2 separate regions of the Homo sapiens genome follow, and region 1 is linked to region 2. Evidence: fine-mapped expression QTL. Tissue or cell type: testis. Region 2 holds a variant in brackets; the other region holds the start of a gene. All regions are shown on one strand. Distances are from middle to middle.

Region 1 (5,151 bases), 27 kb after region 2:
TACTGTGTTCAAAGCTGACCCCTTCTTTTAAAAAAAACCTTGTATATTAACAAATATCACCTCCCTTAGATTGTCCTTTGACAGGAAGCGATATTAACCCTCACAGCACAATATAGGCATCACTCCCTAGCTCTTTGTATTTTTGACTGTGTTTCTGCATTGTTCAAGTCCTGAGGTTGTCTCCTCTATTTGGAAATTCCTAAAAGGTAGAAACTCTGCCTCGATGGTTAAGATCGCGGTGTCTGGAGTCAGACAGACCTGCATCCAAATCCCAGTTTCTCTACTTGATAGCTGTGAGGTCTTGGACAAGTCACTTTACTTTGGTGAACTTCGGTTTTCTTATCTGTAATGAAGAGGTCATAATATCACCTGCCTTATGGGGTTGTGGTGATAATTAAACATTAATGAATGCAAGACATTTAGCAAGGTTCCTAGGACATGGTTAGCATTCAGAAAGTTACAGCTGGCATCATAATTACCTTTCCTCTTATCTGCTATGCCTATCCCAGGTCCTGACATACAGTTCTTACCTTATAAAATATGTGAATGAACACATTTCTTGGTAATTCTTTCTCAAAGAGTGGTCTATCAACCATAGGTACAAGAGCCAAGCAAGGGAACTTATTAAAATGCATATCCCTGAGCTCTCTAGCCCATCCCTCCTGAATTTAGAGGGCAGGAGCTCAAGAATCTGAATTTTAAACAGTGTCAGGGTAATTCTTATATGCACTACATTTTTAGAATCACTCAGAGTAAATATAGCGCAGAGATAAAGGACATTGACTCTGTAACTCGACTTTCTGGGCTTTAATTCTGGCTCCACCACAATGAAGCTGTGTAACCTTTGGCAAGGTATTTAACTTAACTCTGCCCCAGCTTTCCCCTCTGAGACATGGGGATGATAATAATAGTAGCCATGATGTAGAGTTTTTTTGATATATATATATGTGTATATATATATATATTATAATCTACAGTAGATATCTGTATTTTATATACAGTAGATATATATATATTTAGTAAGTATACACATATACACATGATAGCTGATAGCTGTTCTAAGTTATACATCTGGCATACACAATTAGTCTTAGTTATTATATTCTGTTTGTAAGCAACCTCTGTGAATAGTCAGTTCACATGAATTTGACCAGGGGGCTTTTGAGATTGCTTCAGAGGTCTCCTTGCTTGACAGCCTTACTCCACTCTGTGTGCACAGCTGTTCTGAAGACATGAACCTTTAGTCAGAGAGAGAATCAACCCAAAATGAGCCTCAAGCACTTGCCCTGCTGCTGCTACTGCTGGTAGGAAAATAGCATCCTCTCTGCTCTTTAAAGAGCTCCTCTGGCAGATGTGCGCACAGCTGTTCCACCTCCTTCCTGCAGGCAGAGAGCAGGCAGATGCTGACAAGAGTTTGAGAAACATTGCCATCACCAACTCACACAAGTATTGCCTGCAATGGCTTCCCTCCCCTTCTCTTTCTGTGTTTCTTCTCAAGGAGGTCATGGGGTGAGAGACATCTCTTAGTTTGAACTACCTCTAGAGGGAGAACTTGAGGTGGGAAATCAAGAGGGGAGAATTTCTAGGAATGAAGAAGGAGGTAAAGAGGAGACAATGTGGAAGGGTGGGGGTGGCTAGGATACACAAGGTATGTCGGTTGAGTCTAATTCTGGTAAGGATGTCTTGCTGTGTGACCTTGGGAAAGTCACATTACCTCTCAGATTCTTATTTCAAGATGACAAGCACAGGGTAGTAGAGTGAGCAAAAGATTTGGAGCACAATCTAGGTAGGTTGGAATCCTGGCTTTACCTATACCAGCTGTGTGACCTTGGACAAGGTCTCTTCGCTTCTTTGTACCCTTCATTTTCTCTAGAGAAAGACGGGGTGTGGAAATATTTGTCCTATGTGCTCAACAGGTTTACTGCAAGGATGAAGTGACCCAATGGATGTTCAAACACATCCAAAAGTATGAAATGCTACAGATGAGTGAGGTTTCATCCATTCCGTCTATGGAAACTTGACTCTCATCCCCCCTGAGCCTCTGGCAATATTGTGTGGGAGCAAAGAATTGAAGACAAGCTGCCAGGAGAGGGGTTGCCTTGTTATGGGTGCTGCTTGCAGAATAATTAGGTTTCAACATGCAGCTCACTCCATTTGCAAACATAGCTCCAGGCATTGGCAGAGGAGAAGGACATGGCTTTCATCCATCACAACAATGCTTTCTTTTAGGAGGAGGTTTGGTGCAATGGTTGAGCACAGGAGGCATAAGATGGACTTATTTCAAATCCCAAGTCTATCACTTATATCTTTGTGACTTTGGGAAAATCACTTCACCTCTCTGAGCCTCAGCTTCCTTTTCATTAAAATGGGATAATTATAACTACCTCACATCATTATTGAGGATTAAAAGGGATAAAGTGTATATAAAGTATTTTGCCCAATGTGTTGTACTTAATAGATTTTCAATGAACAAATGCTAGTTTTTATTCATTTATTTATTTTTTGAGTTTGAGGGAAGGACAGCCTTCTTAGGGTTGACTAGTGATCTTGCAGCCACTGAAGCAGATATTTCATCAGCTAGAAATCTGAAGTGTGTTCAAAAGAGCCCCAGACTTGGGATCACCATGGCTGGAAGTTGAGACCCGTTGGTGCTATGTGATTTTTAGATGTGTCCCTTCCCTTCTCTAATTTTTAATTTTTAATTTTCATAGCTGTAAAATGGGAGTAAACAGCCTTAATCTGTCTCAGAGGATTGTTATGAGGCTCAGATGTACAAATTCATGAGAAAATGCCTTGTAAATTTGAAAGTGCCATATAACCGAAAAGAGGGTGCTATTGTGTGTGACAGCTACATACCATCTTGCCACCATAGACTTTCTATTCTTTACCATTCTAAAGCTTACCGTGAGCCAGGCAGACTAGGCCAGATGGAATTTGGCCTCTGAAATCCTGAAGCCTGAAATTCCTCTGTTTCTGGAGCCTGGATCTCCGGAAGTGGAGGACTGCCCTAGCCACAAAGCTCCACCCTCCTCTGATGACATCACACAGAGTAGAACCAATCACTGCAATTTTCTTAAAGTTCCTCCCACTGGCAAATTTATTAATACCCAAATAGCTGAGCCAAGACAGTCCAACTCCTTGAGGACATATTACAAACTGCCACCCACTCTCTGTCCCACCTCCTCATACTCAGGGCCCTATGAGGAAACAGAAAAATGGGAGTTTAGAGAAAATTTAATGAAGGTACTACTCACAGAGGAGCAGGCAAGGTTGGGAGAACCAATGAGAGATGTTGAGGCACCAAGAGACTAGCAATAGTTGGGAAATGTTACCACCCCTAGGCTTAAATATGCAGAGAGGAGTGGGCCTACCAGAACTTGGTGATAGGTAGAACCAGGGAGGGAACCAGCAGGAGCTGTAGTCGAGAAGGACTTAGCCACAGCTGTCTGGGAGCAGTGGCTCATGCCTGTAATCCCAGCACTTTGGGAGCTGAGACAGGCGGATCACTTGAGGTCAGGAGTTTGAGACCAGCCTGGCCAACACGGTGAAACCCCGTCTCTACTAAAAATACAAAAATTAGGTGGGCATGGTGATCCACACCTGTAGCCCCAGCTACTTGGGAGGCTGAGGCAGGAGAATCTCGAACTTGGGAGGAAGAGGTTGCAGTGAGCCAAGATCACACCACTGCACTCCAGCCTGGGTGACAGAGCAAGACTCTGTTAAAAAAAAAAAAAAAAAAAAGAAGGACTTCACCACAGGTGGAGTTGCAGCACTGAGGCTGGGGGAGTGGTGGTAGGGTTGGAGGGAGAAATACTTAGAACTTCCTTCTAGCTTTTTAATCTTTTCTGGTGACATCCTGTTGGTCAAATCCACAGAGAAGCCACAGGAAAAGTGAGCCTGTTGATACCATCCATACAGGCCAGCATGCTAGGACCTGGGGCAGTGCAGAGCATGGCAGAGAGTGGATCTGGTTGGGGGAGTGTCACAAACAGAGAATAACCAGTCCAATCCCAAATGCTCCTCTTTACTTGCTCTGTTGGGCCCCCAGACCCTGCGTGAAAAGTATGTTCTCCACTTTTCTGGAGCCGTTTTCAGAGCAGCATTGTCTCCCTCAGGGACTCTTAAGAGAGCTGACACAAGAAAATTAAAGTTTTGAGAGAGGCCAGGATGTTAAAAGCAAAATGCAGGGAGAGTTGGAGTCTGAATGCTTCAGTCATAGGCTGGGCAGTGAGCTCCAGGAAGGCAAGGAGGTCAATAAACACAGTGCCCCACTCTTTCCAGGACTGCTCTTGCTTTCTTCTTTCCTTGCTGCTTGAGGGGCATTTAATATTCTTGGCTACAGCATAGTGATTAAGAGCACGGCTTTGGAGTCAGACAGACCTGGCTCTTCCACGCCTGACTGTGTAAACTTGGACATGTTTGTTAACCTCTCTGAACATTGGGTCTCTCATCCATAAAATAGGAATAAAGCTACTTCTATTCATAGAGTTGTTGCCAGGGTTGAAGGAGATGCTTAAAACAAAGGATTTGGCCACCTAGTAGACTGTCGGGAAGTGATAGTTGAACTATTACACAGTTACTAGTGCATGACCTTCCCTGGTGGACTTACATGGCTGGGGTGCAGCCCCCTCTCAGCCCCCATCTCAGCTTCCTTGCCTCTATCAGATGCATGCTGCTGGCCCTGTGCCCCCAAGAAAGGCTGCTTGTCTGGCTCAGTCTGCAGAGCTCTGGGCAGGGAGGCTGGGAGAATGCAAATGTGCTCTTATCTGAGCAGCTGCAGCTGCTCCCTTCCTAGAGTCCATTCCCAGGAACAAGGGCAGGCTCTGAGCCCCCCAGGATGCCTCAGGCTTCTTCTGGCCCTGCTGAATCTATAATACCAACAATAATATCCAGTAATACCTCAGGCTTTTCCATTTGCAAAGTGCTTTGATTTTCATCCTCCTATTGTACCCTCCCACTGGTCTTGAATTTTTATCACCTACCATATTCTACAGAAGAGGAAAACCAAGGTCAGAATGGTCAAGAGACTTGCCCAGGGTCACATGGCTAATTGTTGATGGAATGAGGATTAGAATCCATGCAGTCTAACACCAGAATTAAAGTTCATTGTATTAGAGAGGGGGCTTCTGGCTGCAAGTAATAGAAAACCAT
Region 2 (5,151 bases):
GGAATTGAAGGCAGATAATTGGCCCAAATTACCTCTGGAGATGTCCTTGGTTTCTAGAAGTCTGTGGCCATGGATGGACATTCAGTGTATACTAAGCCAGCAGTCCCCAGTCTCTGGACCATGGACTGGTACCAGTCTGTGGTCTGTTAGGAACTGGCTGCACAGCAGGAGGTGAGCATTGGGTGAGTGAGCATTACCCTGGGATCTGCCTCCTGTCAGATCAGAGGCAGCATTAGATTCTCATAGGAGTGTGATCCTATTGTGAACTGCACATGCGAGGGATCCAGGTTGCGTGCTCCTTATGAGAATCTAATGCCTGATGATCTGAGGTGTAACAGTTTCATCCCCAAACCACCACTTCTACCATCCACAGAAAAATTGTCTTCCATGAAAACTGTCCCTGGTGCTAAAAACGTCAGGGACCACTGTACTAAGCACTGCTTGTGGGTTTGGGGATACTCAAGAGAATAATAATTTCTACCCTTAGGAAATGTATAATCTCATTAGGAGAACAAAATCTTTAAGAATCCACATGTGCTTGGATTCCTGGCTGAGTTTAAATGGAGACTGGTATGTGGCAGAGACAAACTACATGGTCAATAATCTCATACCCTCCTCTTAGCCATGCAGGAAAATCAAATTTCCCAGGTTTCTTTGCAATTAGGTTGGAACCACATGACGGGGTTTTAGCCAGTGGAAGGCAGGTGTCTCATTGAAGATTCCTTAATGCTCCCTTTGTTATAGTGGGTAGCTAGTCTGGCATGAGCAGGGCAGGAGAGGGCTCCCCCTACACACACACACACACACACACACACACACACACACACACACACACACACACACACACACATGCCAGGAGTGTTGGGAGATCATCAGGGGATAGTCAGGCTGTTGTTAACTGTCTCTGTAAAGTAATAATTGGTCACAGCTGGTGACAGGGAAAGGCAGGCTCCCAAAAGATAGAAAACATCTGAAACTGGTGATCAGCAGCTTCCCAGGAAGATCTCAGGAGTTGGAAAAGTGGGCTTAAGCATGCACATGTGGACAGCCCACCCCAAGGGAAAAATCAGGAGAGATGTAACTCAAGACCTTGGAATTGGCCAGGCGCGGTGACTCATACCTGTAATCTCAGCACTTTGGGAGGCTGAGGCGGGCAGATCACGAGGTCAGGAGATCGAGACCATCCTGGCTAACACGGTGAAACCCCATCTCTACTAAAAATACAAAAAATTAGCCGGGCATGGTGGCGGGCACCTGTAGCCCCAGCTACTCGGGAGGCTGAGGCAGGAGAATGTCATGAACCCGAGAGGCAGAGCTTGCAGTGAGCTGAGATCACGCCACTGCACTCCAGCCTGGGCGACAGAGTGAGACTCTGTCTCGAAACAAAACAAGACAAAACATAAACCTTGGAATTATGCCAACGTATAAAACTCTAAGTCAAAAGGTCAAACCATACACTTGATCTCTCAAGTGGCCCGCTTGGCCCTCTTCCAAGTGTACCTTCCTTCCTTTCCTTCCTGTTCTAAAGCTTTTTAATAAACTTTCACTCCTGTTCTAAAACTTGCCTTGGCCTCTCTTTCTGTCTTCTGCCCCCTGTTGAGTTCTTTCTTCTGAGGAGGCAATAATTGAGGTTGCCACAGACCTGTACAGATTCACCACTGGTACCATACTTTGGTGCCATGTCTCAGATATCTTCCACCACTAACCCCTTTCTCTCCTCTTCTGCAGTGACAGTGGAGGTCATACATTGCAGATTACAGCAACACATGACGAATGGAGCCTGGATCATTGAGTCACTGCTTGGAGGAGAGCCATCAGGAAGGCCTCCTGAGCTGTATCAGACTGTGAAGTTAGTGAGAAATAAACCTTGCTTGTCTTAGGCCACTGAGATGTTAAGTTGGTTTGTTATGGCAGCCAGCAATGTCTTCTTATATCACACAGGGTCTATGATGCCAGAAATTGCTGTCTATTTGCATCTACTGATTTGCACTGGAGCCTTCTGGGGGAAAAATGCCACCAGCCTCAGTGGCTCGGTGTTCAGACAACACCATGGATGATAGCTTGGGTAGGGGGAGATGGGGCTGAATAACGAAAAGTTGTAAAGTGGCCAAATGATCCATTCAGGTGAATCCACTTGGAGGGGAAAATTTCAATGGGCATTGTGACTCAGTTTCAGCTACAAGTCCTGGGGGCTCAAGGAAAAGAGCAGTTCCAAAAAAAAAAAAAAAAACAAACAAAAAAACGGATACTTACTTTTATCATCATAGATTTACTGCTGTTGGAGAAAAGGATTGTATGGGTAAAAATACAAAGTGCTGCAACAATGTGGTCCCCAGCACCAGTGCAGTGTGGTCCTCCTGTGGGGCAGGTGATGGATAAACTATGTACACCGCTAGAAAAG[G/A]CAGTGCCAATTTGAGGGAGCTCTGAGTGCCACAGGTGGGAAACAGTGCTGTGGCAGTGGTGGTATAAAAACAGCAGCTTCCAGGAGTACCAAACACTAATGCAACGTCATCCCCTAGGGACTTCTGGATTGGAATGAGAAACTTGACGGGAATAAGGGATTTTGCCAGTTATGCCAGTGGGAAGGGACTGTGGAGCTGGAGAACTCGAGTCTGTCCCTGCATGTGACTGCATTTGTGTGCATACCAGCCATAGAGTCCTGGCAATGCCCAGGGTACTGTCCACAATAGGCAGCATATCCATAAATGCAAAGTGAACCCAGAGCAGCTGCGCAGAGAAATATCAAGGGGATTTATAGCAAAGGAAACAGTAGGACAGACACTAGCGGACTCATCCTTGTTGCCTGAGCACACCAGAAGATAGATTGTGGCTCTAAAATATCTCAACAACGCCCAGCTGGTGGGGGCCCCTAACTTCTCTTCGTTTCTTCCTTCAAACTGTTTGTCTTTTCAGACTTAGCTGTCAACTCCCTTCCCCTGCCATCTTTCTATAGGAAATCACAGCCCTTATCCAGCACGGATGTTCTCTCTCTCACCAATTTTTAGCTGCTTAGAATGTGAACACAAAGGGAGAAATGCAATTTTTAAAAAATACGTGACTGTAACTGATTTATTAATAGCCCATAATGTTGGTAATGGGCAATCTATAAGTCTGTTCTTAAGAATTTATAGGGCAAATATTCCAGAACCATATTAAAAACACCCCTCATAAATGCCTGCAAGCCTCAATCTATTAACTTAGGTGGTGGGAGAATATCATTATCTGTAGGAAAACAAACAGAGATCCAGCCCCCAGCTCTGATTTCCTTAGATGCTCCAAAAGGCGCATAGTAAGTAAGCAAATTGTATGACATGCCGTAGGCAAAAGTGTCCTGTGCATAGATATCAGCCATTGGCTTTCTTAACATGTGTGCGTGCATTTCAGAAAGGCTTGAGCTTCGGGAAGCATGGGGGTGGGGTCAAGAAGTCTTAGCCAGGCTGAGCTCGGTGGCTCACGCCTGTAATCCCAGCACTTTGGGAGGCCAAGGTGGGTGGATCATGTGAGATCAGGAGTTCGAGACCAGCCTGGCCAACATGGTGAAACCCCATATCTACCAAAAATACAAAAAATTAGGTGGGCGTTGTGGTGGGCACCTGTAATCCCAGCTACTCGGGAGGATGAGGCAGGAGAATCACTTGAACCCAGAAGATGGAGGTTGCAGTGAGCTGAGATGACGCCACTGCACTCCAGCCTGGGTGACAAAGCAAGACTCCGTCTAAGAAGTCTTAGCTGGTGAGAGTAGGGCTGGGGAGAGGAAGAATCAGGCCAGGCATTAGAATTATTTCCCTTTTTTCTTTATTTGTTAATATCCAAAGTAATTCTGAATATAAAATTAAATCATGCTCCCTATTGAATATTTAACAAATATTGGCAAATGTTAAAGAACAGGAAAAAAATGTCCCAGCATGCAAGCCACCATGGATAACCTTCTTTTAAATCACTGTTTCTTACAGAGTGGTGCGTAGGCCGCTTGCATCAGAATTGCATCAGGGATGAGGGGCGGGGGCCTCATTATGAATGAAGATTCCCAGGTCCCACCCAGATCTACTGAACCAGGGTATCTTCGGAAAGTGGCTCTAGCAAACTCTTCAGGTGATTCTGAGGGAAGCATGCTGAAGTTCAAGAAGTTTGTTTTTTTTTTTTTTTTAAGTGATTGTAACCCCAGTACTGGTTCCCAAATGCCAACTCTCAACTTGGTAAAATCAAAATCACTTGGGGACAGTATTATGCACAATTGCCAAAAGGTGAAAACAACCCAAATATCCATTAACTGATGAATAAATTAACAAATTGTAGTATATCCAGGCTGAGTGCTGTGGCTCACATCTGTAATCCCAGAGCTTTGGGAGGTCGAGGCAGGCAGACCACTCGAGCCCAGGAGTTTGAGACCAACCTGAGCAACATGGCGAAAACCTGTTGCTACAAAAAGTACAAAAATTAGCCGGGCATGGTGAGCATGCGCCTGTGGTCCCAGCTACTCAGGAGGCCGAGGTGGGAGGATCGCTTGAGCTTAGGTGGTGGAGGTTGCAGTGAGCCATGATTGTGCCACTGCACTCCAGCCTGGGCGACAGAGTGAGACAAAAATTAATAATAAAAAATAAATGAAGTGATACATGCTTCGATATGGATGAACCTTGAAAACATTATGCTAAGTGAAAAAAGCCAGTCACAAAGAACAGATATTCTATGATTCCACTTATATAAAATGTCCTAAATAGGCAAATCTATAGATACAGAAAGCAGGTTAGTGGTTGCCAGTTGCTGGGAGGGGAGAGTGAGATACGGGCTTTCCTTTTGGGTTGATAAATATGTTTTGGGATTGGATAGAAGTGAGGGTTGCTCAACATCGTGAATGTACTAAAATACCACTGAATTGCACATTTTAAAATGCAGAATTTTACCCTGCAAATTTCACCTCAATAAAAAATTAATTTTAAAAAATTAAATTACTTGAGGAAAGAAAAAAAATCCAGATTCCCTGGCTCTGTACTCAGAGATTTTGCTTTAGTGTGTCTGGGGCAGAGCCCAGGACTTTGAATTGTAGAAAGAAACCTTAGCAGCTACTTCTTATGCGAGGCCAGGTTTGAGAGCCCCCCCGTCTGAGCTAGAACTAAAGCCATAAAGATCCAGAAGGTGTTTGGGCATGGTGGC

What was found. PIP is the estimated chance that this variant, and not a neighbour inherited with it, causes the effect.
Region 1: it holds the start of LINC02423, and the variant in region 2 is fine-mapped to the expression of LINC02423 in testis (GTEx, PIP 0.94).

The regions. Positions count from the first base shown.
Region 1 is chr12:118,758,689-118,763,839 of GRCh38, forward strand. It overlaps LINC02423 (long intergenic non-protein coding RNA 2423), which reads right to left and starts at 2,991. Exons shown (of 2, transcript NR_134999.1): 1 at 2,904-2,991; 2 at 66-343.
Region 2 is chr12:118,731,768-118,736,918 of GRCh38, forward strand. No RefSeq gene overlaps it. Among named protein-coding and RNA genes, the nearest start is that of LINC02423, 27 kb to the right of the region's middle. The variant G/A (reference allele first, on the strand shown) is at 2,402.